Linked DNA regions of Homo sapiens. The protein of the gene in region 1 purifies or fractionates together with the protein of each later gene. This does not show direct contact. Each region holds a gene or a part of one and is shown in the gene's direction. Other genes may lie near its edges.

Region 1 (5,670 bases):
CCACGCCAGGCTAATTTTTGTATTTTTTGTAGAGACAAGGTTTTGCCATATTGCCCAGGCTGGTCTCGAACTCTTGGACTCAAGTGATCTGCCTGCCTTAGCCTCTCAAAGTGTTGGGATTACAAATGTGAGCCACCGTGCCTGGCCTAGCAATTTCATTTTTAAAGAAAGAAATATAAAACGATCTACCCATTCACATTTTCCCCATCCATACTTTAAATTTTAAAAATATGAAATAATGAAATACTCAGCAGATACAAATAATAAAATACTTATATATAATGATATTTCGACTTCATATTAGGGCTTCAAAGGTCAGGAAAGAGGGAGAGATACAGAAGAGAAAAAAAAAAAACGTTAACACATGAGTGTCTTTTTTTAACTTGTTAAAGGTAAAGTTCAACCCAGGAGAAGGGAGGGGAGGGAAGGTCAAAGTTCTGATTCATCAACAAATACTACTTTATTTGTTAAAAATACAAGGCTCTGCTTGGCGCAGTGGCTCCCGCCTGTAATCCCAGCACTTTGGGAGGCCAAGGCGGGTGGATCGCCTGAGGTCAGGAGCTCGAGACCAGCCTGGCCAACATGGTGAAACCCCGTCTCTACTTGGGAGGCTGAGGCAGGAGAATCGCTTGAACTGGGGAGGCAGAGGTTGCAGTGAGCTGAGATCGCACTGCTGCACTCCAGCCCGGGTGACAGAGCAAGACTCCATATCAAAAAATAAAATAAAATAAAATGAACAATGAAAAGACAGGAGGGAGGTTCCTGAGTAAGCTGATTCGAGTGGAAATCAGACATCAAAATTGAAACCCGCTGAATTTTCCAAAAAGCCAGATGCTCATAGAACTGAAGCTTGAGACACTTACATCAGTACACCTGCTGCCTGTTGACCAATTCCTCTTCCTTGTCCCTCCTGTTTTCCTTCCCTGCTATATAAGCCCCTAACTTTAGTCAAGGGGAGGGATGGATTGGAGGTTTGTCTCCCCTCTCAACAGCTCACTGGCTGATGTCACCGGAATAAAGTCTTCCCTGGCAATACTCGCTGTCTCAGTGATAGGCTTTCTGTGCGGTGAGCAGCCAGACCTGGACCAAACCCCTGGCAATCCATAACAAAATCATAAGCAAAATCAACCAGGAAGCTATTTGCACCCTGGAACCCCACCTGGGAGGGGAAGTCAAGGCAGACTTTCCAGAGAAGGCGATGCTGAAAATTTCAGAAACAGAAATTTTGAAGAGCAAGAGTTACCAAGCGAAGAACATTCCATGAGAAGGAACAGGAGGTGTGTGAAGGTGGAGGTTCTGGGGTGAGGTTCTTTATGGAATCGAAAACGGTTCAGAACCACAGGTCGACGGTCAAGGTAGTAGTGAGAGGAGGTGGGACAGGCGACCACGCCGCTGCCCCTGGGATGACTGGAAGGCGACTTAGGGGAGCTGGGGCGAGACAGGTGCAGGGTTTGAGGATGAGAAAGGCACAGAGTGACTAGAGGATTCCCGCCTGCAAGCACATCTGGAAGGGGTGTCTGGATCCTGGGGGCAGCGACTGTGTTCTAGGGCGAGAGCCACCCTCGCCAGGGGTGTAGGCAGGCGAGAGGAGGGCCTGGAGCTGTGGGTCGGCCACACTGCGCCCTCATTTGTGTGCAGCCCCGGAGGACCAGAGTGGGGAAGCACCCCACCCTCTCCCAGGGCCCAACTGAGCACTGCAGCGGGAGGTACGGGGTTGTCAAATGACAGTTTTGCCATTCCAGATTGCCAAAAGAGCCAGTGGCCAGTCTAGGGCACCGCGCCGTCTGGCATCTCCCTGGAGGCCCTGGGCCTGGCCCGAGGCTCAGCCCGGATCTGCAGTTGCCAGGTCAGTGCGGGGCCCGGAGTGGATTCGCGGGGCGGGGCGGGGCACTGCCCGCGCCCGGAGCTCAGCAGCAGCTGCCCAGGGGCGGGGGCGGCAAGACGCGGAAGTGCCCGGCAGGTTGGCGGACCGGCGGGAGGCGCAGCCTGGGCAGAGCTCAGCTTGGTCCCGCCGCCCGGCCGGTGCTCCCTGGCGCAGCCACGCAGGCGCACCGCAGACAGGTGGGTCCCGGCCGCCGCGCTCTCCTCTCTGCGTCCGCGCCCGGCGCGCCCCGAGGGTGGCGGGAGCGGTGCCGGCTACTGCCCCCAAGTCTAGGCCTAGACTGGGCCCCGCGCCCCCCAGGCACCTGCGGGCGGCGGGATGAAGACTGGAGTAGGGCGGGGTCCGCGTCCAGCTGCGCCTGGAAAGCGAGCTCGGGTGGGTGCCTACAGCAGGGTGCGCCCGGCCGGCCTGGGACTTCCAAAGCGCCTCCCACGCCCCGATCGGTTTGGGGTGCTGGCGCCCGGGGAGCCCAGTGACCCAGGCGGCGGAGTGGGCAGCGCTGCGGGGGGCGCCGGCTCTGCTGCTCTCCCTCCCCCTCGCCATCGCCCAGAATGGGGGTTCCCGGGAGCCCCGCTGGAGGCTGGCTTGGACCACAGAGGAGCGAGGCCCGATCCTTACTTTCGATGCACTCGCCCTTGCTCTTACCGGGCCACCCTCACCCTTTCGGAAAAGAGGTTGAGGTTAAAGCGTTCATCCCCCGGGATCTTCAGGCCAATGGCAGGAACTGTGCAAGAGTTTGGGGGAAGATGGTGTCAGGTAGAGGCTGCGTCCCTGGGCTCGCGGCCGGGAATGGCAGACTCTCGTCCCCCGAGCAGCGGAAAAGGATGGGGCGCAATAGTTCCTGGGCTGGTTTCCTCAGGTCCTGTCCCAGAACTTAAGAAGGCAACAATGAAGAGGCTAAACGTGGAGGAAAAGTGAGGCTAGCATGGCCGGGATGCGTGGGGAGATGGTTGTCTCCGGACCCCGGGAGGGGCGGGAGCGGGTACCTGGGAGCAGAGGCTGGAGTGGGGGACTTTCCCAGCCTCGCGGCCACGCTGAACACAGCAGGGCGAGGACCGGGGTGCTGCTCCTCCAGCAGCAGGAGGAGAGGTCCAGAGGCCGACTCTGGAGGTGGGGGTGGCTCCGCGGGCTGGCCCAGGGGGTGTGCCCCAGCGGAGCACGCGGGAGGGGTGGGGGCGGAGGGGAGGGGGGAGCAGGGGCGGAGGACTGGGCTGGGCCTGGGCTCCTCGAGGGCCCAGAATGGGGATAAGTGACCAGAACCAGAGAGGGCTCGGCTGTATCGATGTAGGAAACTGTAGCCCCTCAGGAGGCCCTCTGGCAAGACCTCCCCTTCCTGCCCCCACCCCCAGTAGTTATGGGGCCTGGGGTGCTGGGGCTGAGGGGTTCCAAGAGTCAAGGGAAGCACTGGGAAATCACCCCTTTTTATCTAAAGGCCCTACTTTGGGGTTTTTCCCCTGTACCCTGGTCTTCCCCTACCCTGACCCTGGGAGGAAGCTGAAAGAAGCTTCTTTCTGGGCACCTTTTGCCCCAGAGCCTCAGCCTGTCTGGACCAGGTGGGCAGCAGGGCCCAGGGTGTGGGCAGCTGACCCGGAGGGGTGGGATTTGGGGGTCAGGGCCTGTACAGGGAACCCCTTGTCCTCTCCCTGAGCTGGGTGTGGGTTTGCAAGGAGACATGTGACCCAGACCAACCCTGGGAGCAGCAGGGCGCCTGCTGTCTGGCCACTCTTACTAGGACTGCTGTGGCACTTCCTCCCCTAGTGGGTCCCTGGTGCCCATGAATTGCAGCTCCTGGGTGGTGGTGGGGGCACTGTCTCCTGGGACTCCAGCATGGCCCTGGGGTGAGCTGTGGGCTTACCCCACCTCAGCAGGTCCTCTAGGGCTGCCCACTGGATGCTTCGCTGCCTCACACAATTGTAGGGACTTCCTCAGGCTGTTGGATTTCCCCACCTTCCGGGGCTCAGGTCCATTGACTTAGGTCTAGGGCTCCATACATTTCACCCAGAGACTCCGGAGCCTGGCAGGCAGACCTGTTCTGACACCGAACTTCCAAAGTCATGGGCCTTGATTGGGGTGGTCTGAATTAGACCTAGCCCTTTTCTGGGCAGAAGGGAGCTTCTAGGAGGATGGATGCTGTTCGGGTTAGAGCTCGTGTGGACCTAGCTGCAGGCAAAAGCCTTGAGGCTGAGTCCCTTCTGTGGCATGGTGGACAGACTCTCGCTCATCACAGCCGGGCTTGTCACGGGAGCTCCTCCTCCACACCCCTCCCTAAGCTGCCTGTATGGACGCGGCCCTCTGACACTGAGGTCGGAGTTATCATTTCAAAACCTTGCTCTGTATTAAACAGCCGTGTTGGGCAGGGCCAGACTGCTGGACTGACAGTAGGGGGCAGGCAGCCGGACCCTCTGAGCTCCCCAACGGCACCAGCGCCTGCACGGCCTCAGCCCAGGGGGTCATTAGGGAAGCTCTCCCCGATTCTGTGCAGACAGAGCTTCCTCTGTCCACCCTTGCTCGGCCAGAATTGTGTGCCGCTGGTGACTGGCACCCCTCTATTCTAGGGCCAAGGCCTCTCAGGGGTCTACAGATACAACTATGGGTGGGTGCACACCCATGTTATAAACCACACTAAATGCACAAAAACTGTCTGCAAGTTTGGGGTGCGGGGAACAGCTCTGGGTGGGAGGTTGGAAATTTGGTCTGGGGGACCCACTCGGCTCCCTCCCTCAGCCCACAGTGAGTCTGGTTTCTGAGTTGTCCCGGTCTAGCCACTTTCGTTTCCCCTGGGGCCGGGTGGAGGCTGGGGCAGAAAGCGGAACTGAGCCCGCGTGTTCTGAGGCCAGGGCAGGGCTGGAGCGTTCTGAACACCTCCCCGTCCCAGCCCCTGGGCCAGGCAAGGGCCGGCCTTACCTCTCCTGGGTTGGTGGCAGCAGAGCTGGGCTCTGAGGGAGGCCTGCAATGTGAGACAGTAGCAGCTCAGAGGCGGCACTAGGCAGGTGCAACCCCAAAAGGTACTGGGCAGGGAATTTCAGGGGAAACTGAGGCTCCATGCTGCAAGGCCAAAGCAGGCCCAGACACAGGGAGTTCAGCTCGAACGTTTGCTCCTTACTTGCTGACCGACACATTCACTTCTGATGGGCTGTGCTGTGTAATGACCCAGTCCTTTCTGTCTTCCACCCAGGGGTCTCAAGTGAAGGGCCAAGGGCATGGGTAAGGGGAGGAGAGGGACAGAAGGGGACTCAGGACTGTGGAGAGTTTCCGGTTCTGGGCTGGAGAGGGAGTTGGGCAGGTGAAGGGGAGGAGGCAGGGTCCCTCTGGCCTGACTCCAGGGAGGCAGTGAAGCTGTGGCCTGGGAGGCGGGGCTCGTGCCCCTGGGTAGGTAGCAGTTAGAGCTGTGGCTTCTGTTTCCTGTAGCCTTCCTAACAGGCTCCGGCAGGCGTTAGGGCCTTCCTAAGTGCTACCCGAATGCGTGTCCAGTGGGAGGAGAAGGGGGAGGACCAAGAACCTAGATGAATGGCCCTAGAGAGGTAACATCTGTTTGGTGCCTGCTGTCATTGGAGGTGGGTTGAGTTGGTTGATGGGATTTCTCTAAAGATATTGAGAAACTGCTTTCCTCTGAGGGCAGGTGTCCTTGGGAGCTCCAGATGAGATTCTTGTTGAGGGCATCTCCGGAGGGAACTCTCAGGGGATGGAGGGTGAGAAAACTTGGGCAGGGAAGAATCGAACTAGGGGTGTAGACTGAGCAGGAGGCTGTCTTCGGGCTGATCCCACAGAGCGCTCGCTGTCCCAGGTAG
Region 2 (4,967 bases), on another chromosome or scaffold:
TCGGTTTTAGCTCTTCATGTAGGTCTTTGATGCATTTTGAGTTTTTTTTTTGTATATGGTATAGTAAGGGTTAGTCCAACTTCACTTTTTTTTTTTTTTTTTTTTTGCATGTCAACATACAGTTTTCCCAGTACCATTTGTTGGAAAGACTATTCCTCCATTAAATCATCTTGGCACTATTGTAAATAATTGATTGATGGTAAATATGAGGGTTTATTTCTGGACTTTCAATTCTATTCCATTGATCTCAGTGCCTGTTTTTATATTAGTACCATACTATCTTGATTACTGTTGATTTGTAGTAAGTCTTGAAATTGGAGATTATGAGTCTTCCAATGTTCTTCTTTTTCAAGATGGTTTTGGCTATTCTGGGTTCCTTGAAATTTTGTGTGAATTTTAGGATCAGTTTTTTAGTTTCTGCAAAGAAGCCAGCTAGGATAAGGGATTGCACTGAATCAGTAGATCAACTTAAGGAGTCTCTTCTTATGTTTTCTGTTGCTATGACAGAATATCACAGACTGGGTAAATTATAAAACAATACAAGTTTATTCAGCTCAGTGTTCTGGGTGAGGCCAGGAAGTCCAGGAGCATGATGGCTCTGGCATTTGGTGTGGGTCATCTCATGGCAGAAGGAGGAAATGAGTGCAAGACAGAGTAGTTGCTCATTGCTTTATAGCAACCCAGTCTCATGACAACTAAACCACTTCACAATAACGGTATTAATCCATTTGTGAGGGCTCTGCCCTCATGACCCAATCACCTCTTTTTAGGCCTTTCCTCCCAACACTGTCGCATTGGGGATTCAGTGTTCAACACATGAACTTTTGGATAATATGTTCAAATCATAGCAGGGATGTTATTGTTAACATCTTGACAATATTAAGACTTATGATCCATGGAATGCATGACTTCTTTTGAGGTCAGAAACATATACATTTCCTCTACATCTGTGTCTCTGTGTTATTTTTTTATTTTTATTTTTTCAGAAACACAAGAGCCGAAAACGCCGGTAAGTTGCCAAAGCTGGTGGAGGGGAGGGGAAGAGTGGGCAGAAATACCAGGGGTGCAAACTCCAGTGGCCCCGGGGCAAGCAGGTAACAACCAGCTGGGTGCACCAGCACACATGAGCTACTGGCCCTGGTTTTAGAGGGAGAGGTGGACAATGGCCAGGTGGAGAGAGCCCTCTCACAGCATCCAGTTCAAGTTGGCTCTGGGGCAGTGTTGTTCTCCTGAGTGTGGAGGGTCCCCACCTGCCGTGCAGGGAAGGAGAACACTATCCTGCATGTGGCTTGCATTTCTCGGGGCCAGTCAATGTCAGGCTTGTTTCTTGATCAGCCCCCTCCCTCTGAGAGCCTTAGGCCATGGTGGTTTGTGTTGATGGTTGTTGGGTTCACAGGGATGAATGAGGAAGAGCTGTGTCCCAGTCAGAGCTGTGCAAAGATGGAATAGAGTGCTTTTGGAGGGAGTGAGTTCCCTGTGCTCACTTCCCACTGGCAGTGTGCAAGCAAAGGCTGGAGGACACCTTGGGATTGTTGGACTAGAGCATCCTTAGGGTCCCTTCCAACTCAGACATCCCATGAGCCGGATGTGTAAGTGTGATTTCTGCCTGCAAGGATGGCAGCCATGTTGGAGAACCTCCTGTTTGTATTTCTCCTAGTTGGGGCAGGGTGAGCCCTCGGATTGAATGCTGAAGGGAGATGGCAGCCCTGTTGGCCTTGGCCCATCTCCCATCGTAGCCCAGTCCAGTCTTGTCTTGGAGAAGGTGGCCAGGAAACTTGGGCCTGAGGGAAGGGAACAAGTCCTGTTGCTGGTTTCCAGTTGGCCCAGTTCGGCCCAGGTTGCATGGCTCTGGCCCTGCCCACCATACCCATTGTACTTTTCCAGACTCTTCTGCACCATGGAGCCAGAGCCAGTCCAGCCCGGCATGCTTATCGATGTCTGCAAGTACCTGGGCTCCCTGCAGTACCGCGTCTGGAAGAAGATGCTTGCATCTGTGGAATCTGGTGAGCGGGGGTGCCGGCAGGTGTCCCAAGCATGGGTGGAAGCCCTTCATGTTAGCAAAGAGGCACCAGGGCTGGTCTCTGCCGGGCCCACCTCCCACCTCCTCAGAGCTCCCCTCCTCTCTCAGCTGATCCCTCTGCCAGTCCCTCGCAGGCAGGTTCCTGTACCCTGGTCTTTTCCACTCTGCCCAACACCTCCAACCCTCCTGGTAGAATGCCTTCTCTCAGGGTCCTGACACTTGGTCCCTTCTTCAGAGAGGGAAACTGGCTTTCTTGCCTATTCAGAACTGTGTTTTGTATGATAAAAGACCTCCTGCATCTGGGCTTGCCTCTCCTAAGGCGACTGCAGCCCACATGAGCCACAGTGTCCTGGTTTTACGGGGAGGAATATCACTGACTCAGGGAATGGGCCGTGCTGTCCTAACATCCCTTGGTCGTGTGAGTGTTAAGAGTCTCTGCCTGTATGAGTTCCTGTGGCTGCCATAACGAAGGACCACAAACTAGAAAATGACAGAAGTTGACTCTCTCACAGTTCTGGAGGGTAGAAATCCAAAATCCAGATGTTGGAAGGACCAGGCCCCCTCTGAAACCTGTAGAGGAGAGTCTTCATTTCCTCTTCCGTCTCCTGGTGTCTCCTGGCCATTCTTGGCCTTATTGGCTCCCCCTCAGCACTTTGATCCTCACCTCCGCCATCACACAGCATTCTCCCCTGTGTATCTGTGTCTGTCTCCTCTTTATTTTAAGGACACAGGTCATATTGGATTGGGGACCCTCCTCCAGTCTTCATCTTAACTAATATGTGTACAACCACCCCATTCCCAAATAAGGTCACACTCGGAGGTACCAGGGGTTGGGACTGCCGCATATCTTCTGGGGGATACAGCCCAACCCCTGCCACCACTCCAGCCCTGGGCCACTCCTTGCATGGACTTGGGGCCAGGTGTGACACAGTGGTTGGTTTGTGGGGCTGGAGATATCCACGTGTGGCCTAAGGGACCTCAGGTTTGCTGATTCCCCATTTCCGCCTCTGCTTGCAGTACCCTTCAGCTTTGACCCCAACACCGCAGCTGGCTGGCTCTCCGTGTCTGACGACCTCACCAGCGTCACCAACCATGGCTACCGCGTGCAGGTGGAGAACCCGGAACGCTTCTCCTCGGCGCCCTGCCTGCTGGGCTCCCGTGTCTTCTCACAGGGCTCGCACGCCTGGGAGGTGGCCCTTGGGGGGCTGCAGAGCTGGAGGGTGGGCGTGGTACGTGTGCGCCAGGACTCGGGCGCTGAGGGCCACTCACACAGCTGCTACCACGACACACGCTCGGGCTTCTGGTATGTCTGCCGCACGCAGGGCGTGGAGGGGGACCACTGCGTGACCTCGGACCCAGCCACGTCGCCCCTGGTCCTGGCCATCCCACGCCGCCTGCGTGTGGAGCTGGAGTGTGAGGAGGGCGAGCTGTCTTTCTATGACGCGGAGCGCCACTGCCACCTGTACACCTTCCACGCCCGCTTTGGGGAGGTTCGCCCCTACTTCTACCTGGGGGGTGCACGGGGCGCCGGGCCTCCAGAGCCTTTGCGCATCTGCCCCTTGCACATCAGTGTCAAGGAAGAACTGGATGGCTGAGCTGGCCCGGGGCTGCCCCGGTCTTGTGCCACAGCACTGTTTTCTTTCTGCCCTCTTCCTAATGCCCACACTGCTTGGGCACTATTGCGCCCCTGCCTCCTTGCCAGGCTCTTCCTCCTGTCCTGCCTGGTCCTTTTCCATGACTCCAGGCTGTGCCTCTCTCCATGTTTGGTCCCTTCTGTGCCCATGGTCAGGAGCTATTCGGGTGGCACCTCGCTGGCCAGGCTCTCCCGAGTCGTGGCACCTCCACAATGTGAATTTTCTGAATCCCTATTCCAGGATTTCTGGGAATAATGTTTACTTCTAGAATGGGCCTGTTGTAAACCATCTCATCGAGGTGTGGTAAAGCCATTGGATGAGGAGGGGACTGCCATGGAAAGGAGAGTTTGTTACTTACGGTTCTGAGAGGAGGGGCCACATAGGAAAGCCCCACGGTGGGTCAGAAGGCGGAAGGAGGGAGGGGAACGTGTGGGCAAGAGACTTCCTCTGGTTTCCTCAGGAGGAAATGGGCAAGGCAGAGTAAGCAGGGGAGACAGGTTTAAGGGTAGCTGGCTTGAGTAATTTCAGTGGCTCTCAGGATAGGGGCTGCCCTTTTTGTCTGATACCTGGCCCCGGGATAGTCAGGACAGGTGAATGTTGGCCTGGGGTGTGACAGCCCTGGGAGAGCCATGTGAAGGAGGCAGCTGGCGCCATCGCTCCGGATTAGTTGGTTTCCATAGGAAAGGCATGCTTTCAGCCAGATGCTTGCCATCTCTAGGGATTGGGGGATTGGCTAGCCTGGGAGGATCAGTCTGTCCAGGTCAGCGAGGCCCCAGATACCAGAGCATCAAGAGTACAGGAAATACAGTTAATGCAGGGCCTCTGTGTGGCTGGATCCTCCGTCTCCATCAGATCAGCTCTGATTGATCTATTCTTGCACGATTTCCTCTGAACACAGGGTTCCAGAGTACTTAAACACAACATTTTTTAAATCGTGATTTCGGCCTATTTCCTTGCCAGGCCTGTTTCCCCACCAGGAAATGAGATAGGAGGACTGGATGAGGATGTCCTGTTATAGTTGCTGTGGAGGAAGTTCCTCTGGTTAATTCTCATCAGCGTCTGCAGAAAAGAAGGAAAGAGGGCACCCTTTTCAGTTGGGAAGAAAGGAGAGGGGTGGCGCCATGGACGTGGCCCTAAACGCTGTGGGAGAGGGAAGAGGAGGCTGGGCCTCGCTGCCCTCTTGTCTCTGCTGACTTCAGCCTGGTCATGCTTGCTCTGCCACTTGCGATTTCATCCCTAATTTCTTCCTCCACCATGCCTGCAGACTTTTCCCTGGGCTTGTTTTTTCTCGCACATCTCTGAAGAGTTTTTAA
Region 3 (3,914 bases), on another chromosome or scaffold:
TCTGTAGTTTTCAACTCTCTTTCCTTCTCCTATTTTGACATCATCCCCCAAGACCCACTGTATTCTAAGCTTTAGTCTTGAATTCATTGAGCTCCATCATCACAGGTACCATTTGCCTTTTTACCTCTTCCTTTGTTGGTACTATAACAAGCAGATCTAGTTCTGGCTTTTCAGAGTCTGTCTCCTAGAGAGAGAACAAGGAGATAGTTGTTACCTTGGCTAGTTGACTGTTTTCTTCTCTGGAAAATTTATTTTCTGGCCACAGTGCCTGAAAGATATTTTTGGCTGGCAGCCCTTGCCTTGTCCTGGGCTTTTTGCTAGTGACTGCTAAGCCCAGTTCAGGATGTCAGTTGTACTCATGCTAGCCCTTTCCATCCCCCCAATTTTCATGACCATATACTTGTATCTTTCAGTGTTTTGAGGACCTGTGTTCAGTCAGGACCTCTTGATTCTGAGTATGAGCTGTGGGGAGGGAGGGGATCATCCCAGTCTCAGCAGTCTGGGATCCTCCCCCTGGCAGGAATGCAGCGAGGAAGAGGATGGCTACAGCAGTGAGGAGGCAGAGAATGAGGAAGATGAGGATGACACCGAGGAGGCTGAAGAGGACGATGAAGAAGAAGAAGAAGAGATGATGGTGCCAGGGATGGAAGGCAAAGAGGAGGTGTGTGGGGAAGGGGAGCAATGAGTCTTGAAAAGCCACAAGGCAGGTGTGAATCCCCTAATTTTGATTTTGAGACAGGGGATCCCCCTGATACTTTAGGATGGAAGTAATAGTCATGGGGATTTATTCTGCAAGGGGAATGAGATGGTAAGCCTTTGGGGTTGAATTATCTAAAAACAAGGGAGAGGGAGTGTGCTGCTGTCTCTAGAAAGATGAAATGTGTGCTTCTCCTGTTTGTTAAAGCTCTTTTGGGGGTCCCAGTGAAAGCAAGCATAGGTGAACGATCAGGAGCACATCAGTGAGGAACGCATGTTCAGAAGCCCCCATGATGCTCCTTTTCTTCCTCTTAAGCCTGGCTCTGACAGTGGTACAACAGCGGTGGTGGCCCTGATACGAGGGAAGCAGTTGATTGTAGCCAACGCAGGAGACTCTCGCTGTGTGGTATCTGAGGCTGGCAAAGCTTTAGACATGTCCTATGATCACAAACCAGAGGATGAAGTAGAACTAGCACGCATCAAGAATGCTGGTGGCAAGGTCACCATGGATGGGCGAGTCAACGGGGGCCTCAACCTCTCCAGAGCCATTGGTAAGGGCCAAGAAACTGGGAAAGACTTCTAGGGTCTTTCTCTCTGTCCCAGACTACCTAGTAGCAAACTTTAATCTTCCTAGTGCTTGTGCCTTTCAAAGCACTTTAATATCTACTACCTCTGTTCTTATATTTCTGTGAAATAACTAAGATGGGTAGAGGTATCATTATACATAGGTATCATTATACCCATCTTATGTAACATTTGAATGATGAAAAAGACCTGTGAGTGCCGGGCGTGGTGGCTCACGCCTGTAATCCCAGCACTTTGGGAGGCTGAGGCTGGTGGATCGCCTGAGGTCAGGAGTTCGAGGCCAGCCTGGCCAACATGGTGAAACCCCATCTCTACTAAAAAAAAAAAAAAATACAAAAATTAGCTGGGCATGGTAGTGCAAGCCTGTAATCCCAGCTACTCAGGAGGCTGAGGCAGGAGAACCGCTTGAATCCGGGAGGCGGAGGTTGTAGTGAGCCGAGATCGTGCCATTACACTCCAGCCTGGGCTACAAGAGTGAAACTCCGTCTCAAAAAAAAAAAAACAAAAAAGACTTAAAATAAAAAGACCAGTGAGTGACTTTCTTAAGGTTCAGCAGTCTGGTGGCAGGGTTGAAACTAGAAAAACTAGGACTTAGGACTCAGTTCCCCATTCCACTAGATTATGGAACTTTGTAAAGAAGGGAAATGAATGGCAAGGTTTGACCTGCCACAAACACAAGTCTGTGGGAAGTATCCAAACTGCTCATCAACCATTCCTTTACTCCAGGGGACCACTTCTATAAGAGAAACAAGAACCTGCCACCTGAGGAACAGATGATTTCAGCCCTTCCTGACATCAAGGTGCTGACTCTCACTGACGACCATGAATTCATGGTCATTGCCTGTGATGGCATCTGGTGAGCACTGGCAGAATGCCCTAAATTCCCCTTTCTGCAGCATGTCTTCTCTTATAGGACTCAGGGCACCTCTAGGATTAGAGCCTAGGCAGACCTAGGCCTCTTGGTGGGTGAAGAGCACCCAGACTAAGGCAGAGCTGAGAATTTCTGTAGTTATTTACACTGGCCTGGGCCACCACCTCTGTCCATACTCCTCTACGCTGCCTTAGTGAGACTGGAAGATTCTGACTGTTGTTCTTGACCCCAGGAATGTGATGAGCAGCCAGGAAGTTGTAGATTTCATTCAATCAAAGATCAGCCAGCGTGATGAAAATGGGGAGCTTCGGTTATTGTCATCCATTGTGGAAGAGGTGAGTACCAGGGTGGAGAAGAGAGGGTGTCTGGTCTGCACAGCCAGGGTTCACTCTTTTAATCTGAGCTAAGTCGGCAATCTGGGAGCATTATCAGTAATTGCTGACAGACGCTAAACCCCGACTCCAAAGTTCCACCTTCTGTCATTTCCCTGACTTAGCCTTATGCCTTATGGACTAGCAGGTGGGCCGTTGTGTGATACCTCTTGCCCATTCCTCTCCTACCACCCTGACTCAGCAAGCCAGCCCTCTTGTGGGACTGTAGATTCCTGGCAAGGTGTTCAAACCCTGTGGCTGAGCTACCCCCATCCCTTTCTTAGCTGCTGGATCAGTGCCTGGCACCAGACACTTCTGGGGATGGTACAGGGTGTGACAACATGACCTGCATCATCATTTGCTTCAAGCCCCGAAACACAGCAGAGCTCCAGCCAGAGAGTGGCAAGCGAAAACTAGAGGAGGTGCTCTCTACTGAGGGGGCTGAAGAAAATGGCAACAGCGACAAGAAGAAGAAGGCCAAGCGAGACTAGCAGTCATCCAGACCCCTGCCCACCTAGACTGTTTTCTGAGCCCTCCGGACCTGAGACTGAGTTTTGTCTTTTTCCTTTAGCCTTAGCAGTGGGTATGAGGTGTGCAGGGGGAGCTGGGTGGCTTCACTCCGCCCATTCCAAAGAGGGCTCTCCCTCCACACTGCAGCCGGGAGCCTCTGCTGTCCTTCCCAGCCGCCTCTGCTCCTCGGGCTCATCACCGGTTCTGTGCCTGTGCTCTGTTGTGTTGGAGGGAAGGACTGGCGGTTCTGGTTTTTACTCTGTGAACTTTATTTAAGGACATTCTTTTTTATTGGCGGCTCCATGGCCCTCGGCCGCTTGCACCCGCTCTCTGTTGTACACTTTCAATCAACACTTTTTCAGACTAAAGGCCAAAACCTAATCGTACGCATCGTGTCCTTTTTTTTCTGCTGCCGTGGCCCCCGACTTGGTCCCATCTGTAGCATGTGGCGAGCCCCCATGTGAGTGTGTGCGTGTGCTCGTGTGTGTCCTGCGCGTGTATAGGAGAGCCCAGAGCGAGCTGCTGGTAGGCCGGCCTGGCGGGCGTCGCGGCTGCCCCTCGCCCCCTCCTGCAGCCAGAAATGATCTAGTTCCCCCAGGGACAGGTTGGGACCGGTCTGGCTGGCCTGAAGCCTGGAGTCGGGCAGGACGCCTCCTGCGCTGCTCCCTGGCCGGCTCCCCGCTGCCGCTGATTGGCTTGCTCCCCGCCTCGTCACAATCACTTCCCGGTCACGCCATTGAGGCTCCCGCCGCGGCCGCTTCCCACGGACTACGCGTCCCGTGCGTCTCTGCGGCGGCGGAAGCGGAAGCGAGTACGGAGGTACCAGCTGGTCTCCGTAGGGGGGTAGGGGGCTCCATGAATGGAAGCGGCGGCGGCGGCGG
Region 4 (4,967 bases), on another chromosome or scaffold:
AAAGGTAGCCATGAGAGAACCTGAGCACAGCCCTGTGCCCGGCGGTCTGCAGCCTCAGATTCTACACTACAGAGTCGCTGGGTCCTCCGGCATCTGGGAACAGACGCCCCAGATAAGAAAAAGGAGGAAAATGAAAAGTGTTGGGGATGATGAAGAACTTCAGCAAAATGAAAGTGGAACATCTCCAAAAAGTTCTGAAGGCCTTCAGTTTCAGAATGCTCTGGGCTGTAATCCCAGTTTGCCTAAACATAATGTTACCATAAGAAGTGACCAGCAGCATAAAAATATACAGTTGCAAAACTCCCATATTCACCTTGTTGCCAGGGGCCCTGAGCAGACCATGGATCCCAAGCTGTCGACCATCATGGAACAACAGATAAGTTCAGCAGCCCAGGACAAGATAGAACTGCAGAGACACGGAACTGGAATCTCTGTCATCCAGCACACCAACTCCCTGAGCAGGCCCAACTCATTTGACAAGCCTGAGCCTTTTGAAAGAGCCTCCCCAGTTTCTTTCCAGGAGCTGAATAGAACGGGGAAGTCCGGGTCTCTAAAAGTGATAGGAATCTCCCAAGAGGAAAGTCACCCTTCTCGGGACGGGTCTCATCCTCACCAGCTTGCACTATCAGACGCTCTCAGAGGAGAACTTCAGGAAAGCTCCAGAAAGAGTCCAAGTGAACGACATGTGTTAGGACAGCCCTCAAGACTTGTCCGGCAGCACAACATCCAAGTTCCAGAGATTTTGGTCACAGAAGAACCAGATCGAGACCTGGAAGCTCAATGCCATGATCAAGAAAAGTCAGAGAAGTTCAGTTGGCCCCAGCGTAGTGAAACCTTGTCAAAATTGCCAACAGAGAAACTGCCACCCAAAAAGAAAAGGCTCCGTCTGGCTGAGATAGAACATTCCTCAACAGAATCGAGCTTTGATTCCACTCTCTCCAGGAGTCTAAGTAGGGAGAGCAGTTTATCTCACACTTCAAGTTTCTCAGCCTCTTTAGACATAGAGGACGTTTCTAAAACGGAGGCTTCCCCCAAAATCGATTTTCTAAATAAAGCCGAGTTTCTTATGATTCCAGCTGGCTTGAATACTCTGAATGTTCCTGGATGTCACCGGGAAATGAGGCGTACTGCATCAGAACAGATTAATTGCACGCAAACGTCAATGGAGGTCTCTGATCTCAGAAGCAAATCATTCGATTGTGGAAGCATCACCCCACCCCAGACAACACCACTTACTGAATTGCAGCCTCCATCTTCACCTTCTCGAGTGGGAGTGACTGGGCATGTGCCTCTCTTAGAAAGAAGGAGAGGCCCACTGGTACGGCAAATATCTTTAAACATAGCCCCAGATAGTCATCTGTCTCCTGTACACCCAACATCTTTCCAAAATACTGCTCTTCCCAGTGTGAATGCAGTGCCATATCAGGGGCCTCAGCTCACTAGTACATCTTTAGCTGAGTTTTCTGCAAATACTTTGCACTCTCAGACTCAGGTTAAGGATCTGCAGGCAGAAACATCAAACTCCAGCTCTACCAACGTTTTTCCTGTTCAACAGCTCTGTGATATCAATTTGTTAAATCAAATCCATGCACCGCCTAGCCACCAGAGCACACAGCTATCTCTGCAAGTGTCTACGCAGGGTAGCAAGCCAGATAAAAATTCTGTTTTATCTGGGTCTTCTAAAAGTGAGGATTGCTTTGCTCCCAAATACCAATTGCATTGTCAGGTTTTCACTTCAGGCCCATCTTGCTCTTCTAATCCTGTGCATTCTTTGCCAAATCAAGTTATTTCAGATCCAGTTGGAACAGATCATTGTGTGACATCAGCAACATTACCAACCAAATTAATTGACAGCATGTCTAATTCGCATCCTCTGCTACCACCAGAGCTCAGGCCCCTTGGAAGTCAGGTGCAGAAGGTGCCATCATCATTCATGCTGCCCATACGCCTGCAGAGTAGTGTTCCTGCTTACTGTTTTGCTACACTCACATCCCTGCCACAAATACTAGTGACCCAAGATCTGCCCAATCAGCCAATTTGCCAGACTAATCATAGTGTAGTGCCAATCAGTGAAGAACAAAATTCTGTGCCAACATTACAAAAAGGTCATCAGAATGCTTTGCCAAACCCAGAGAAGGAATTTCTATGTGAAAATGTTTTTTCAGAGATGAGCCAAAATTCTTCTCTATCAGAATCCTTGCCCATAACTCAGAAAATATCTGTTGGTCGACTTTCCCCTCAACAAGAATCTTCAGCTTCGAGTAAAAGGATGCTTTCCCCAGCAAATAGTTTAGACATTGCCATGGAAAAGCACCAGAAGCGGGCCAAAGATGAAAATGGAGCTGTTTGTGCAACAGACGTGAGACCTTTAGAGGCTTTGAGTTCGAGAGTTAATGAAGCTAGTAAACAGAAGAAGCCTATTTTAGTGAGACAGGTTTGTACTACAGAGCCCCTGGACGGTGTGATGTTGGAAAAGGATGTTTTTTCTCAACCTGAAATTAGTAATGAGGCTGTTAATTTGACAAATGTTTTACCAGCTGATAATTCATCAACAGGATGCTCTAAATTTGTCGTTATAGAACCTATAAGTGAATTGCAGGAATTTGAAAACATCAAGTCATCCACATCATTAACTCTTACAGTTCGAAGTTCACCTGCTCCTTCAGAAAATACTCATATTTCTCCTTTGAAATGTACAGACAATAACCAAGAAAGGAAGTCTCCAGGGGTTAAAAATCAAGGTGACAAAGTGAACATCCAAGAGCAAAGTCAACAGCCAGTCACTTCTCTTTCATTGTTTAACATCAAGGACACCCAGCAGCTGGCTTTCCCTAGCCTGAAAACTACAACCAACTTTACATGGTGTTATCTCTTAAGGCAGAAGTCGTTGCATTTGCCTCAGAAGGACCAGAAAACTTCAGCCTATACTGATTGGACAGTAAGCGCCAGTAATCCAAATCCACTCGGTTTGCCCACAAAAGTTGCACTTGCTCTCCTTAATTCAAAACAGAACACTGGAAAATCACTATACTGTCAAGCAATAACTACCCATTCCAAGTCAGACTTATTGGTCTATTCAAGCAAGTGGAAAAGCAGCTTAAGCAAGGTACTTGAAATATAATTTATCTTCAGATATGGTTTGCGCAAATTTGTTTCCATGTGTCTTGATACCTTTAAATATTTTAACTGGAAATATTTTAATTTTGAGTGACAAATTGTGCTGTAAATGTCTTATTTGAAAGACAGGGTGATATATTTACCCCAGGAGTTACATTGATAAGAGTTACCAAGAGTCTTGCAGTGATTCTATCTTGAAAGATTTTAGAAATGATTTACCCTGAGCACTTTTCTTTTTCTCAGCTAACTATATAAGTCTTTACTTAGTAGTACAGATGATCATGGTTTTACTTTGATGTTTTACTTATATTGAGGTTTTGTTTTTCTTGTTAAGTGAAAGGAAATCATGGTTATGCTTTGTTCCTCCTCATGCAGGGAAACAGGTGTAGATAATCAAAGATAGTTGTATTTCATCCTGAAATATAAGCAGAAAGCCATTTAGACTTGTCTTGAGCTTACTAGCTACACGCCCCTGTCATGCTATGTAGCTGTCTTCCAGTGTAGCTGTGAGAACCATTAGCACTAGAGAGAAGTTTCACAAAATAATTCATATACTTGGTAAGTTGATTTGGTCAAGATTTATAAAGTAATTTAAGGTCATGAAACTGTAACTTGGGGTAATTTGTGGAATCAGTCTCATTAGAATTATCAGCTTTATAAAATGGGAAAAAGTCATTTACTTGATTAGAATAATAGGTAAGCATATCACGTTCGACTCTGCATATTCAGAAGTATTTGGCCTCTGCAGATTCATAAGCATGCAACACAGGTTAATAAACATTTACAAATCTGTCAGTAGGAAAATACTGCAGTATCAGTATTACCATAGAATTATGAACAATTCTAAAGAAGGAAGTTTCTAACATTACTGGTAGGTGGAAGAGAGAAGAATTCAGCAAACATACTCCAAAGGTGGTGATACTTTAGCTAACTGTTCAAATTTTTTTTAAAAAAATAGGGATTTTTCAGGCAAAGAAGAAGCAGCTTTTTTTTTCGAGACAGAATCTCACTCTGTCACCCAGGCTGGAGTGCAATGGTGCGCTCTTGGCTCATTGCATCCTCCCCTCCCGGGTTCAAGCAACCCTCCTGTCTCAGCCTCCTGAGTAGCTGGGATTACAGGTGCCCACCACCACGCCTGGCTTTTTGTATTTTTGGTAGAGACAGAGTTTCGCCATGTCTGGTTTGGCCAAGCTGGTCTTGAACTCCTGACCTCAGATGATTCACCCATCTTGGCCTCCCAAAGTGCTGGGATTACAGGTGTGAGCCACCGCGCCCAGCAAGAATAAAAAAAAAAATTAATAATACACGAAATGACATGGAAATGAGAATAAACTTGGTTCATTTAAAGAACTCTGAAGAGTCTGGCCTGGTTAAAAAGAGTTATAATTTGGAAACATAGGTAAAAATCAAATCATGTGTATGGTGGTGGAGAACCAATGATACTTTCTCAGTGAAGGAAAGTGCATCCAAACCACCTGTGGAATTTGTTAAGTTCTCAGGCTCTAAATCTACTAAATCTTGGAAGTTAAGACCTAATAGTTAGAATTTAAACAAAACTCCGTGTATGTTCCTGAAGTGTTTGTGGAGAAGAGAAGTGGCTCTCCTTGAGTACCAAATGCCTTGGAAGAAATGTCTGGAAATGCATATCTAGATTTGGAGCTTAGGAGAGAGCTCTGGATGGAAGTGTGTAGAGTAGAGATTCTTTTGTGTAGAGTAGAGATTCTTTAGTGCATAGGTGTGATTAATGAGATTGCTCAGGGTATAAAGAAGAGGAGAGAGCCTAGACTGGATACTGGGGATCACTACTATTTAAAAAGTTGAATGGTTGAAGAAAGTCCACACTCCTGTAT
Region 5 (4,967 bases), on another chromosome or scaffold:
TGAAAATTTCAGGACCCTTGATCAGAAGCTTTCAATGTGTGTTGCTCCACTTTGTTGTAGGCAAGCTTCAAGTAAGGCTAAGACAGAAGAGTGTTTCTACTGAAGATGTGATCTAAGAATTGCCTTCTACAGAGGCGAATTATATTCTGTAGAAACTAGCTAGCCACCAAGATGTTACCAATAAAGGATTCCTTATACTAGCAACTAACCATGTTTAAAAGGCCTTAGCCATTTAGAGTAATATTTATGAGTACAAGCATAATTGGTTCCTTGCCTTCTACAGATAATCATCTATAAAATGATAAAAGCAGGCTTCAACTGTGTTTCTTCTCTGGGGTGAGAAGGTGCAGATACACATGGGTGATCTACTGATTTACCTTCTGAAAGTACTCTTTGGAAGCAGCTGGATTTGGCTTGATTGTAGGAGAATCCAGTGTCCAGTTTGCTGGGCAGACTTCTCCATGGGTTTCTACATACTGGAACGCCTTCACCAAGTGGAGGGTTTCTTCCACGCTTCGGCCCACTGGGAGGTCATTGACGCTCAAGTGCTTGATGACTCCATTGGGGTCAGTTATGAAGAGACCTCTTAGTGCAAGACCAGAACCTTCTAACAGCACACCGTAGTCTCAGGAAGTTTGCTCAAATCTGACAAGAGTGGGATGTTCATGTGGTCCAAACCACCATTATTTCTTGGTGTATTTATCCAGGCAAGATGACTAAAGTGGGAATCCACTGAGACCACAACTTCACAGTTCACATCATGAAATTCCTTAGCTTTGTCACTAAAAGCAACAGTTTCTGTAGGACCACGAAGGTGAAATCCAAAGGATAGAAGAAAAGCACCAAATTATTTCCCCTTAAAGTCATCAAGGCTTAGGTCTTTGAACTCTCCATTGACAATGGCTGTACCCTTAAAATAGGGTGCATGCTGGGCGACAGCAGGTGCATGGTATGAGGAGCTGGTGCTAAAGAATTTTGCTTGACTGGAACCAGACCATAATATGTTTGTCAAGCTCGTTCTTCCAGAAGCAGCAAGCTTGAGGGCTGCAGTGGCAGAAATGCCCCAAGGAATGGCACTCACATGTCGGGCAGCCGATGCTCAGAGTAGCCTTCCCACAGCAGCTACCATCTTCAGTGCACGCGGGCGAAACTTCCTTTGTCTTGTACTTAGGTCTTGGCCTGAATTTCCATCAGCCCAGAATCTTCTGCTACTTCCTCCCCTATTTAGTTCTTGGTCTGAACACAGCCTAGAATTATCCTCTTCCTTGTTCCTTCTGGTTCCAAATGCAGAAATCTTGAGATCCTGAATCTGGCACCTCTTTTCAGGTGACCCCAGGCAGAAGGAGTTGGGCTCTACCAGCTAAGCTGGATATATACGGGGAAGTTTGGACAGAGGGTCTGATTACCTTTTGCCACCAAAGCTTTGACACAGGGTTGCAGGACTAAGCCTTCATGCCTTTCTCCCTCACTGCTAAAGATTGTAGAAAAGTATCCCTTTGGGAAGCCTCATAATAAGGGTCTCTGTAGACTTCTAAATGTCTAAGAGATCCTTTTTGTTGGATGAGATTTTTTTCCAGGAAGTAGTGCATTCTGAGAACTGAAGTGTGAAGTGAATTGTTTTTCTTGGGGACCCTCAAGTCACATGCTTACAGGAGGCAGGTCGTCTAGACACAAGAGAAATCTGCCAGGTTTCAGACGCAGAACCCTAGAAAAGAGGCCCCATCTGTGCTTTTCTTACTCTAGCAGCACCCAAAGTTTTGATCCTCCTTTTTGCTTCTCCAGGCATTGTGGCATTTAACACTGGTCCATCTATCTGTCTGTCTCCTGCTTGCATCAGTAATGAGTGGACCCATCTTGCTCTTAAAGCCTGGCCAAAGAGAAGGCTGTGTCCCCCTAATTCTGTTCCATTGCACCCTTTAAGAAACCCTGAAGCTGTTACAGCGCCTGCTGAAGTCACCAGGCTGCCGGAAGATCCCCGTGCTGGTGCAGAGCAAAGATGATGTGATTGTCACAGCCTCCAACTTCAGCTCTGAAAGGTAACGCGTGGGGAGCGCACACTTCAGACAGGCACCCTTGCAGGCAGGACCACAGTGAGTGATGGGCCTGGAATGGCTGTCAGTTTGGGCATAAGGTCTCATGAAAACACCACATCAACACCTCTCCCTATTCAGAGATCGGAGGAAATAGAAGCTTCCAATCTTAGCGCAGGGTCTCCCAAGCCAGCATTGTTGCCCAGGGGTAATATCACGTAACCCAGATTGTGAGGTGCTGGCATTCCTGGGGTTGGCATCCCGGCTGAGACTTCAGTGTCCTTATCTGTGAAATGGGAATAACATTCCCTTCCCTGTAGGGCTCCCGTGAATGTTGGAAATGAAGTATGTAGAGCACTTAATGCCCTGCCTGGCTGATGGATGGTAAATACACAGCCATTTTTGTAACTCAGTTTTTTATACTGTTGTTCCTCAAAAGCTCACTAATCAGATCAGTTTTGGCATTTACTCATTAATGTATTCTTTCATTCCATAAATATTTATTGGATGTTTGTTCTGCGAGACTCTTCATCTAGATGTTGAGGATTCAGAGTTGAATTGAACACAATCCTTGTCCTCAAGGTGTTCAGCTCCTTGGTGAGAGATGCTCTCTCGATAATGGTGAACTCTACTAACTCTGCCTGTTTGCCCAGAGCTTGGTCTATAGCGCCAGGCCCAGAGCAGCCTGGCTTTTTGCCTATGCCTCTGCCCTGATGTGATCTTCAGTACCATCAGTTAGCCTGCAGAGGGGGCACATTTCAGACAGCCCCATTTGAGCTTGTTGATATTCTTGAGTGCCTATTCTGTGCAGGCACTATTCTAGGAGCTGTGGGGAATGTGTAATTCGTGATCTCAAGGATTTTAATTCAGTCACCCTGAATAGGAGCAATAGAGGCCATTTACAGGACTCTGATGAAAAATCAGATGCAGTCATGTGTAATAGAGAAAAAGCTCTCCAGGAACTCAGAGGAGTCAAGAGTGTCCACCCAGGAAGGATTTCATGGAAGAAGTGGTATTTGAGATGAGCTCTGAAGGGTGAGAGGGCCTGGTAGTTGCATAAAAGGGAAAGAATTCAGGAAGGAAGGTCAGAGTGAGCAAATCCACAAGGGCAGAAAAGTTCCAAAGTTTTAGGAGAAGGGAGAGTTCTCTGGTGTGGCTGGAATATAGGAATTTGCGAGAAGTGAATCTGCAGAGATGGCTACAAGCCCAAGCCAAAGGGCTGTGAGTGTTGGGAGAGGGATTTGGGGTATCTTCTCTGTGGTGGAAAGGCGGTTAAGGATTTTAAGCAAGCATGCGTGTGTTTTAGGAAGAAGCAGTCATGAGGTTCCAAACTAGGGCAGTGGTGGAGGACAGAGAGGAGAGGACAGGTGTCAGAGACAGAACTGAGTGAGAGAAGAAGGCCTCAGAGTAGGGCTGGCCAGGAGCTTGCTAGGTCAGGGCAAAGAGGTCAAGCCCTTGGAGGCAGGTGAGGGAGAGGTGGAGTCATGAATAGTGGCATCTGCTCCTCGAGCCCTGTTGCTGCCCCTGGTCTGTGTCAGGGCAGGACCTGGTCTCCTGAGTGCCTCTCTCCTTTTTTCCTTCCTCTTCTCCCTCTGCTTAGGATGTGCCCGATATTCCAGATCTCCAACGTTACAGGCGAGAACCTAGATCTGCTGAAGATGTTCCTCAACCTCCTCTCCCCCCGCACCAGCTACAGGGAGGAGGAGCCTGCTGAGTTTCAGATTGATGACACCTACTCCGTCCCGGTAAGTGGCTCTGGGCGGGTAGCTGGGTGGGCACTTCCTACAGTGGCATCAGGGGGTGGGTCTGTGCTGGGGATGCACTTATGAGGCCAGGGTCTTCTCCTTGGCAGGGTGTGGGGACAGTGGTTTCGGGGACAACACTGAGAGGCCTGATCAAGCTGAATGACACGCTGCTGCTGGGCCCAGACCCCTTGGGTAACTTCCTGTCCATTGCTGTCAAATCCATCCATCGCAAGCGCATGCCTGTCAAGGAGGTGCGGGGTGGCCAGACAGCATCCTTTGCGCTGAAGAAGGTGAGTAGCGATGATACTGAACGCTCCCCTCAGACTCCATCATGCTAGGCTCTTGGCCAGATGCCCTGCTCACCCACTCTAGTCCTCATGGCTGCTCTGCAAGGTCGGGATTACTGGCTTCATTTTTACAGATGAGGAAACTGAGGCTCAGAGCCCAGGGACTTGCCCAAGACACACAGCTTGTAAGTGCTAGAGCGAGGAATGCCTCCTTCTAAGCTCCGTTCCTCCCTCTGGTGCCTGAGCAGGGTGGCCTGAGCTCAGTGGTGAGGTCAAATAGGAGTATCCCTGCTGTGCAAGGATCCTTCTACATAGGACCATTGGGATCTGCGCCACATCCTCTTCCCATTCAGCCTTCTATCTCCTGGGGTTTGGGGTGGGTTGTAGTTCAGGGGTCACCTACCTTTACCCACCAACTAAATTAACCAGGAATAGTAGGACTTTCTTCCCCACAGTGGTCAGGTCATGCCCACCTGTTGTTCCCCCTGAATGCTTGCCTGCCTTTGCTTCCTCATGCGTCCTTCATGGCCGAGCAGCTGAAGTGCTGATTCCCGCATGAAGCCTTCCTGACCCCCAGTAGTAGTGTTGAGTCTTCCCATGGAGCACTGAGGGTGCTCGTGCTGTCCACCCTAGAAGGCCTGTGGTCCAGTTGGTGAGGAAACCAGGCAGAGTTGGGGTGGTCCCTATCCCTAGAAAGACTCTTGGTCCCTGGGACCAGGGGTGAAACCAGAAGGCATAATTGTCCCTGAGGGCTGGGGCTCCCTCTTTCTTTCAGATCAAGCGCTCGTCCATCCGGAAGGGCATGGTGATGGTTTCCCCACGTTTGAATCCCCAAGCCTCCTGGGAGTTTGAGGCCGAGATTCTCGTCCTCCACCACCCCACCACAATTAGCCCGCGCTACCAGG
Region 6 (4,967 bases), on another chromosome or scaffold:
TCAAGCACATGGGCCTCAGCAGGCACATGAGTCAGTGGCTAGTTCAGGTTCAGCCAGGAAGCCTATCTGTGACCTTACCTGGGAGTCCTCATGGGATGCCTTGGGGCCCTGGCCACAGATTGGCCCCCAGAACCTCAGCTCTCTTCCTCTGACCCTTGGCCTGAGATGGAGTGAGTGTGTCCCAGTGTTTCCTCCCCTGTGCTCTGGGAGGGCAGTGACCAGGCTGGCCTTGACTTTGGGCCCTTAGCACAGGGCCCGCCCCAGGCTAACGCTCTGTGAACCTCTGTGAGAAAGGAAGAAGGGAGCCAGGAAAACAGTGGATCAAAGGTGAGGCTGAGTCATGCAGTGCTGGTGGGCCCTTGGATCAAGGGCTGGGGCTGCTGGGGCTCAGGATGGCAAAGTTTGCTTTTCCAAGACCTTGTCCATCCCAGGCCCTCCCCACATCAGCCTGGGTTTACTTGCTGAGCTTTGGGCCTTCCTGCTTGGCCCACAACCCAGTGCTCAAGTTGTCTGGGCTGAGATAGGGACACTGAGGGGCTGGCTAGCTCCTTTGTGCCTCCAGTTCCCTTGGAGAGGAGGGTGGCTCTTGGCAGGGGTGGGCTGTGGGCTTCCTGACCTTGGGGTAGAGGCAAGAGCCTCCAGCTTCTGGCAGTGACCGGGCAGGGCTGTGTCCTAGATCACCATCCCGAGGGGAAAGGACGGCTTTGGCTTCACCATCTGCTGCGACTCTCCAGTTCGAGTCCAGGCCGTGGATTCCGGTAAGTTATTGACAGGGGGATGCCAACCCCACTTGCCCACCACACATGTGGGCTTTGCAAACATAGTCTGGAACTAAAAGGGGAGCCCCAAACTGGAGCAAAGTGTCCTGGCTTTTCAAAATGAAAAGAATAATATTTTTAAGTGACCGTAGATGAAACTGCCATTTATGAAAATATGCCCACTTTTTTTTTGTTGTTTTTATCAAAATGAAAATAGGTTTTTATATTTTGTTTCCCAATCAGTTTGAACAGGAACTAAACCTATATTTTCAGCAATGGCTGCAAGGGAAAATGAGAGTCATTTGTGAACTCTATTTGAAGCTGTTTTGTATCCTATCCAGAGCCTGATCAGCACTTAAAAAGAGCCATCCTTCCCTACTTTTCACAAATGAAGATTTCTCTTAATCACAGAGTGAGCATCTCAAAGACAGAAGCCAGGGCTCAGTGGTCAGGGTGTTTCCAGTGCCTACACAAGGGTGGGCATGAGGTTCGTGCACAATGATTGGCAGAGAAGGAATAAATGTAGTGTGGGAGCCTGGCCCCAGGGAAGGTTCTCAATGGGGTAGGAGGCCCTGGGGAGGGGTAAGGGCCCGGGTAGAAGGGTGGACTGCAGAGAGGTAAGCCAGCAGTAGGGGAGGTAAGCCAGCAGTAGGGGAGGCAAGCAGGGAGAAGGGAAGGCAAAGGGATGCCTTCTTTCAAGGCTCTTGAGAGGCACCAAGTTCAGTCCCTCATTTCACGGATGAAGAAACTTAGAGAAAAAGGGAGGTCCTTGTCTGAGGTCACCATGGCAGCAAAGGACTCCAGATCCTTTGAAGGGGTCTTAGGCTTCAGGGGCCCCTGAATGGCTTTTCTTTGTCCCTGCAGGGGGTCCGGCGGAACGGGCAGGGCTGCAGCAGCTGGACACGGTGCTGCAGCTGAATGAGAGGCCTGTGGAGCACTGGAAATGTGTGGAGCTGGCCCACGAGATCCGGTGACAGGGGACAGCGGGTGGCCTGGGGCCTCAGGCTGATGGCACACCCTCCCCACCCCTGGGCACACTGCCTTGCCTGGCCCAGCTCTTGCTGCTCCCTCTTTTGCCTAGCTGTGAGCAGGCAATTCCTTTTGCTCTTCAAGGAATCTGTTTCTTGGCCTGAGAATGGAAGGTTCAGGCTCAGAGCACTTTTGGATTCCAGAGCAAACAGCAGGGAAGATGCTCTCAGACTCTGTGGTTCAGGACGGGGCACCAGGAGGTTGCTTTCTGCTTTAGCTAATTTTTGTTACCTAAGAGCTAAGCCCATTTGTTATTTAAGGGCATGAAGATGTTGCAAATGTTTCAATTGCACAATTAAAAAAATATTCTTGAAAACATTGGAGTCTCCCAAATTTTGATCCTCTAGGGTAAAACCCCGATGGCCCCATTTTAGGTCTGCTTCTGGAATAACCAGATGAGGGCTTGCACTTAGGTGACCTGCTAGCTTTACTTGCTTATATCTTGCTTTTGATAAGCATCATGGATTGAGTATGGAACTCTTTCCTGTTGAAACTGGCCTGGCCTCAGGGTCCTTCTCAACCACTGCCCGTCAATAGGAATTGACCTAGGTGACCCATTTGCTGTCTCTTCTTTAAATGGCTTCTTGCATCCCTTCCTGCCCTGACACTGGGGGCTTCCCCTCTGGTGTCTGCCTCCTCTTCCCCCATTATCCTCTCTGCCCTGTGGGCCCTCACTCTGGCTGATACTGGCTTTCCCCAGGCTCAACCTGTCTGTGTGATCCCCCACCTTCCAGGAGCTGCCCCAGTGAGATCATCCTACTCGTGTGGCGCATGGTCCCCCAGGTCAAGCCAGGACCAGATGGCGGGGTCCTGCGGCGGGCCTCCTGCAAGTCGACACATGACCTCCAGTCACCCCCCAACAAACGGGAGAAGAACTGCACCCATGGGGTCCAGGCACGGCCTGAGCAGCGCCACAGCTGCCACCTGGTATGTGACAGCTCTGATGGGCTGCTGCTCGGCGGCTGGGAGCGCTACACCGAGGTGGCCAAGCGCGGGGGCCAGCACACCCTGCCTGCACTGTCCCGTGCCACTGCCCCCACCGACCCCAACTACATCATCCTGGCCCCGCTGAATCCTGGGAGCCAGGTACGGACAGCTGGTGTGGGGAAGGTGAAGGGTACTGGGTCCCTGTGGGAGGCCAGGAAGACTTGAAGACCCAAAGTTGTGTGATGAGCAGCCTGTGAGGGGCTGCGATGTTGGGCAAGGAGATGGGGTATGTGCTAGCTCTGCCTTCTGCAAGGCTGTTCTTGGTAGGGAGGACAGATGGGTCTATGTGGCCTCAGGGCACAGATTCAAGACCAGGGCATGCACAGGCTGGAAGATTTCAACTCACAGAAGGAAGAGCTTTCTACTAGCCTGTGCTTTTCCCCAGTGGAATGGGCTGCCTTGGTAGGTGGTGAGCCCCCATCATAGGAGGTATGAAAGCAGACACTGCATGATTGCATGGTGGGATGATGGAGTGCGCTCCCCAAAACATTAGTCCCATGAGATGCTCTGGGAAAAAGGTGTTCTGAGGTCAAATAAGCTTGCGACATATCCCATACCCTCTTCCTCATCTAGGAGATTCTCAATGCAAAGGAGCCTAGTAGAGGCTCTGCTGGCATCCTGTACTACAGCAGGTGTCAACCAAATAACACCGCATTTCCCAAACTTGCCTAATGGGGGCACACTTTAGGGCGTGGTTGGTACCGTCTTACCATTCCAGTGTTCCCTAGAATGCACTTTGGAACCAGCTGCTGTAAAGGAAGTTGGGGACTTGCCAAGGGGTTAGGCTTCATGACCCATAAAGCCTCTTTCAACTTGAATATTCTGGGATTTTGTGTTCTCTCCCAGCCTCCTCCCTCAGCTGGTTACCAGAACTGCTGTTTTTCTCTTGTGCCCTGAGGTGCTCCACTTCCTCTCCCCTGGGGCCCCCGTGTCCAGCAGCCTCCTGGGCTGTCCTGCCCTGTTCCTGGGGCTGAGGTGGTTTTCCTGTCTTTCCCTTGCAGCTGCTCCGGCCTGTGTACCAGGAGGATACCATCCCCGAAGGTGAGTCTCCTGCTGCTGCTGTGCCCTCCTAGCTCAGAGAGGCAGCAGGGGTCAGCTGAGGCCTGGCCCAGCCTCCGCCCCTGAGTTCTGAGGCCTTTCCAATGGAGTCAGGTCACTTAGCCTATCGACACAGACTCTCTTTCCACGTGGTACCTTTTCTCCCTCACGGAACCAATGTCTTTCTTCCTTGAAGCCAGAACTGAGAAGGAGGAGAGGGGATCTTACCAGGGCATTTTGAGAGACCGTGTGTCCAGGCCTCAGGCATTCAATTGAGATTCATCCAATTTTACAGAGCAACCGATATATATTAGGTGCCAGAGGCAATGTGGTTGGGCTTGCATGGAAGGGAGTCAGGGAGCGTGGAGGTGGGAGGTCTTGAGTTGGAGTTCTAGCTATATGACTTTGAGCAAATCATGTCTCCTTGGTCGGGCGTGGTGGCTCATTCCTGTAATCCCAGCACTTTGGCAGGCTGAGGTGGGTGGATCACGAGGTCAGGAGATTGAGACCATCCTGGCTAACACAGTGAAACCCCGTCTCTACTAAAAATACAAAATCACTACTGGGCGTGGTGGTGTGCGCCAATAGTCCCAGCTACTCAGGAGGCTGAGGCAGGAGAATCACTTGAACCTGGGAGGCAGAGGTTGCAATGAGCCGAGATCATGCCACTGCACTCTAGCCTGGGTGACAGAGCGAGACTCTGTCTAAAAAAAAAAAAAAATCCTGTCCCCTCGCTGAGCCTCAGTTTCTTCATTTATAAAATGGGGTCAATAATTCCTACCTCAGAGGGTTGTTGGGGGGATCCCATGAGAGAATGGTTATGAGTAGTTGCCTGTATACTGAGAGAGGCTATACAGAGGGTAGCTGTCTTTGAAGTGCACAGATGTCTCTGCTGCTGGATGGATTCTTCTTCTTTGGCTTTTAAAATCCTGATCAGGGGTGGAAGCTGAGCTCAAAACCACTTTCTTCTCCCAGGAAGGCTGAGATATTGGTCTTGAGGCTGAAGCTGGCTGGGCATTCCTTGAGATCCTTCGCGTGCCTGCCAGAAAGCTTTGACTCAGAAGTCCATCTGGTGTCTGGACCGCCTTCCTTGACAGTGGCTTTTGCTTAGCCACTCACAGACTTGCTTCCTTGCTGTTCCCCTCTCAGTGGTGT

The links.
Region 2: the proteins of IRF5 (region 1) and TRIM35 purify together in Homo sapiens (affinity purification with western blotting, with the first as the bait; one study listed by BioGRID). This does not show direct contact.
Region 3: the proteins of IRF5 (region 1) and PPM1G purify together in Homo sapiens (affinity purification with mass spectrometry; one large-scale study listed by BioGRID and IntAct). This does not show direct contact.
Region 4: the proteins of IRF5 (region 1) and HIVEP1 purify together in Homo sapiens (affinity purification with mass spectrometry; one large-scale study listed by BioGRID and IntAct). This does not show direct contact.
Region 5: the proteins of IRF5 (region 1) and GTPBP1 purify together in Homo sapiens (affinity purification with mass spectrometry; one large-scale study listed by BioGRID and IntAct). This does not show direct contact.
Region 6: the proteins of IRF5 (region 1) and RGS3 purify together in Homo sapiens (affinity purification with mass spectrometry; one large-scale study listed by BioGRID and IntAct). This does not show direct contact.

Annotation. Positions count from the first base shown.
Region 1 is NC_000007.14:128,935,989-128,941,658, forward strand, and holds the start of IRF5 (interferon regulatory factor 5), read left to right. Parts: upstream 1-1,938; 5' UTR 1,939-2,061; intron 2,062-2,228; exon of another isoform or gene 2,229-2,257; intron 2,258-3,137; exon of another isoform or gene 3,138-5,436; intron 5,437-5,670. UniProt on the Homo sapiens protein: Transcription factor that plays a critical role in innate immunity by activating expression of type I interferon (IFN) IFNA and INFB and inflammatory cytokines downstream of endolysosomal toll-like receptors TLR7, TLR8 and TLR9.
Region 2 is NC_000008.11:27,286,198-27,291,164, reverse strand, and holds part of TRIM35 (E3 ubiquitin-protein ligase TRIM35), read left to right. Parts: intron 1-986; coding exon 987-1,009; intron 1,010-1,884; coding exon 1,885-2,003; intron 2,004-3,037; coding exon 3,038-3,615; 3' UTR 3,616-4,967. UniProt on the Homo sapiens protein: E3 ubiquitin-protein ligase that participates in multiple biological processes including cell death, glucose metabolism, and in particular, the innate immune response.
Region 3 is NC_000002.12:27,380,699-27,384,612, reverse strand, and holds the end of PPM1G (protein phosphatase 1G), read left to right. Parts: intron 1-520; coding exon 521-661; intron 662-1,012; coding exon 1,013-1,247; intron 1,248-2,007; coding exon 2,008-2,137; intron 2,138-2,384; coding exon 2,385-2,487; intron 2,488-2,807; coding exon 2,808-3,014; 3' UTR 3,015-3,414; downstream 3,415-3,914.
Region 4 is NC_000006.12:12,122,765-12,127,731, forward strand, and holds part of HIVEP1 (zinc finger protein 40), read left to right. Parts: coding exon 1-3,106; intron 3,107-4,967.
Region 5 is NC_000022.11:38,722,376-38,727,342, forward strand, and holds part of GTPBP1 (GTP-binding protein 1), read left to right. Parts: intron 1-168; exon of another isoform or gene 169-1,147; intron 1,148-1,921; coding exon 1,922-2,036; intron 2,037-3,630; coding exon 3,631-3,775; intron 3,776-3,882; coding exon 3,883-4,065; intron 4,066-4,837; coding exon 4,838-4,967. UniProt on the Homo sapiens protein: Promotes degradation of target mRNA species. Plays a role in the regulation of circadian mRNA stability. Binds GTP and has GTPase activity.
Region 6 is NC_000009.12:113,504,766-113,509,732, forward strand, and holds part of RGS3 (regulator of G-protein signaling 3), read left to right. Parts: intron 1-676; coding exon 677-758; intron 759-1,622; coding exon 1,623-1,728; intron 1,729-2,521; coding exon 2,522-2,873; intron 2,874-3,775; coding exon 3,776-3,815; intron 3,816-4,967. UniProt on the Homo sapiens protein: Down-regulates signaling from heterotrimeric G-proteins by increasing the GTPase activity of the alpha subunits, thereby driving them into their inactive GDP-bound form.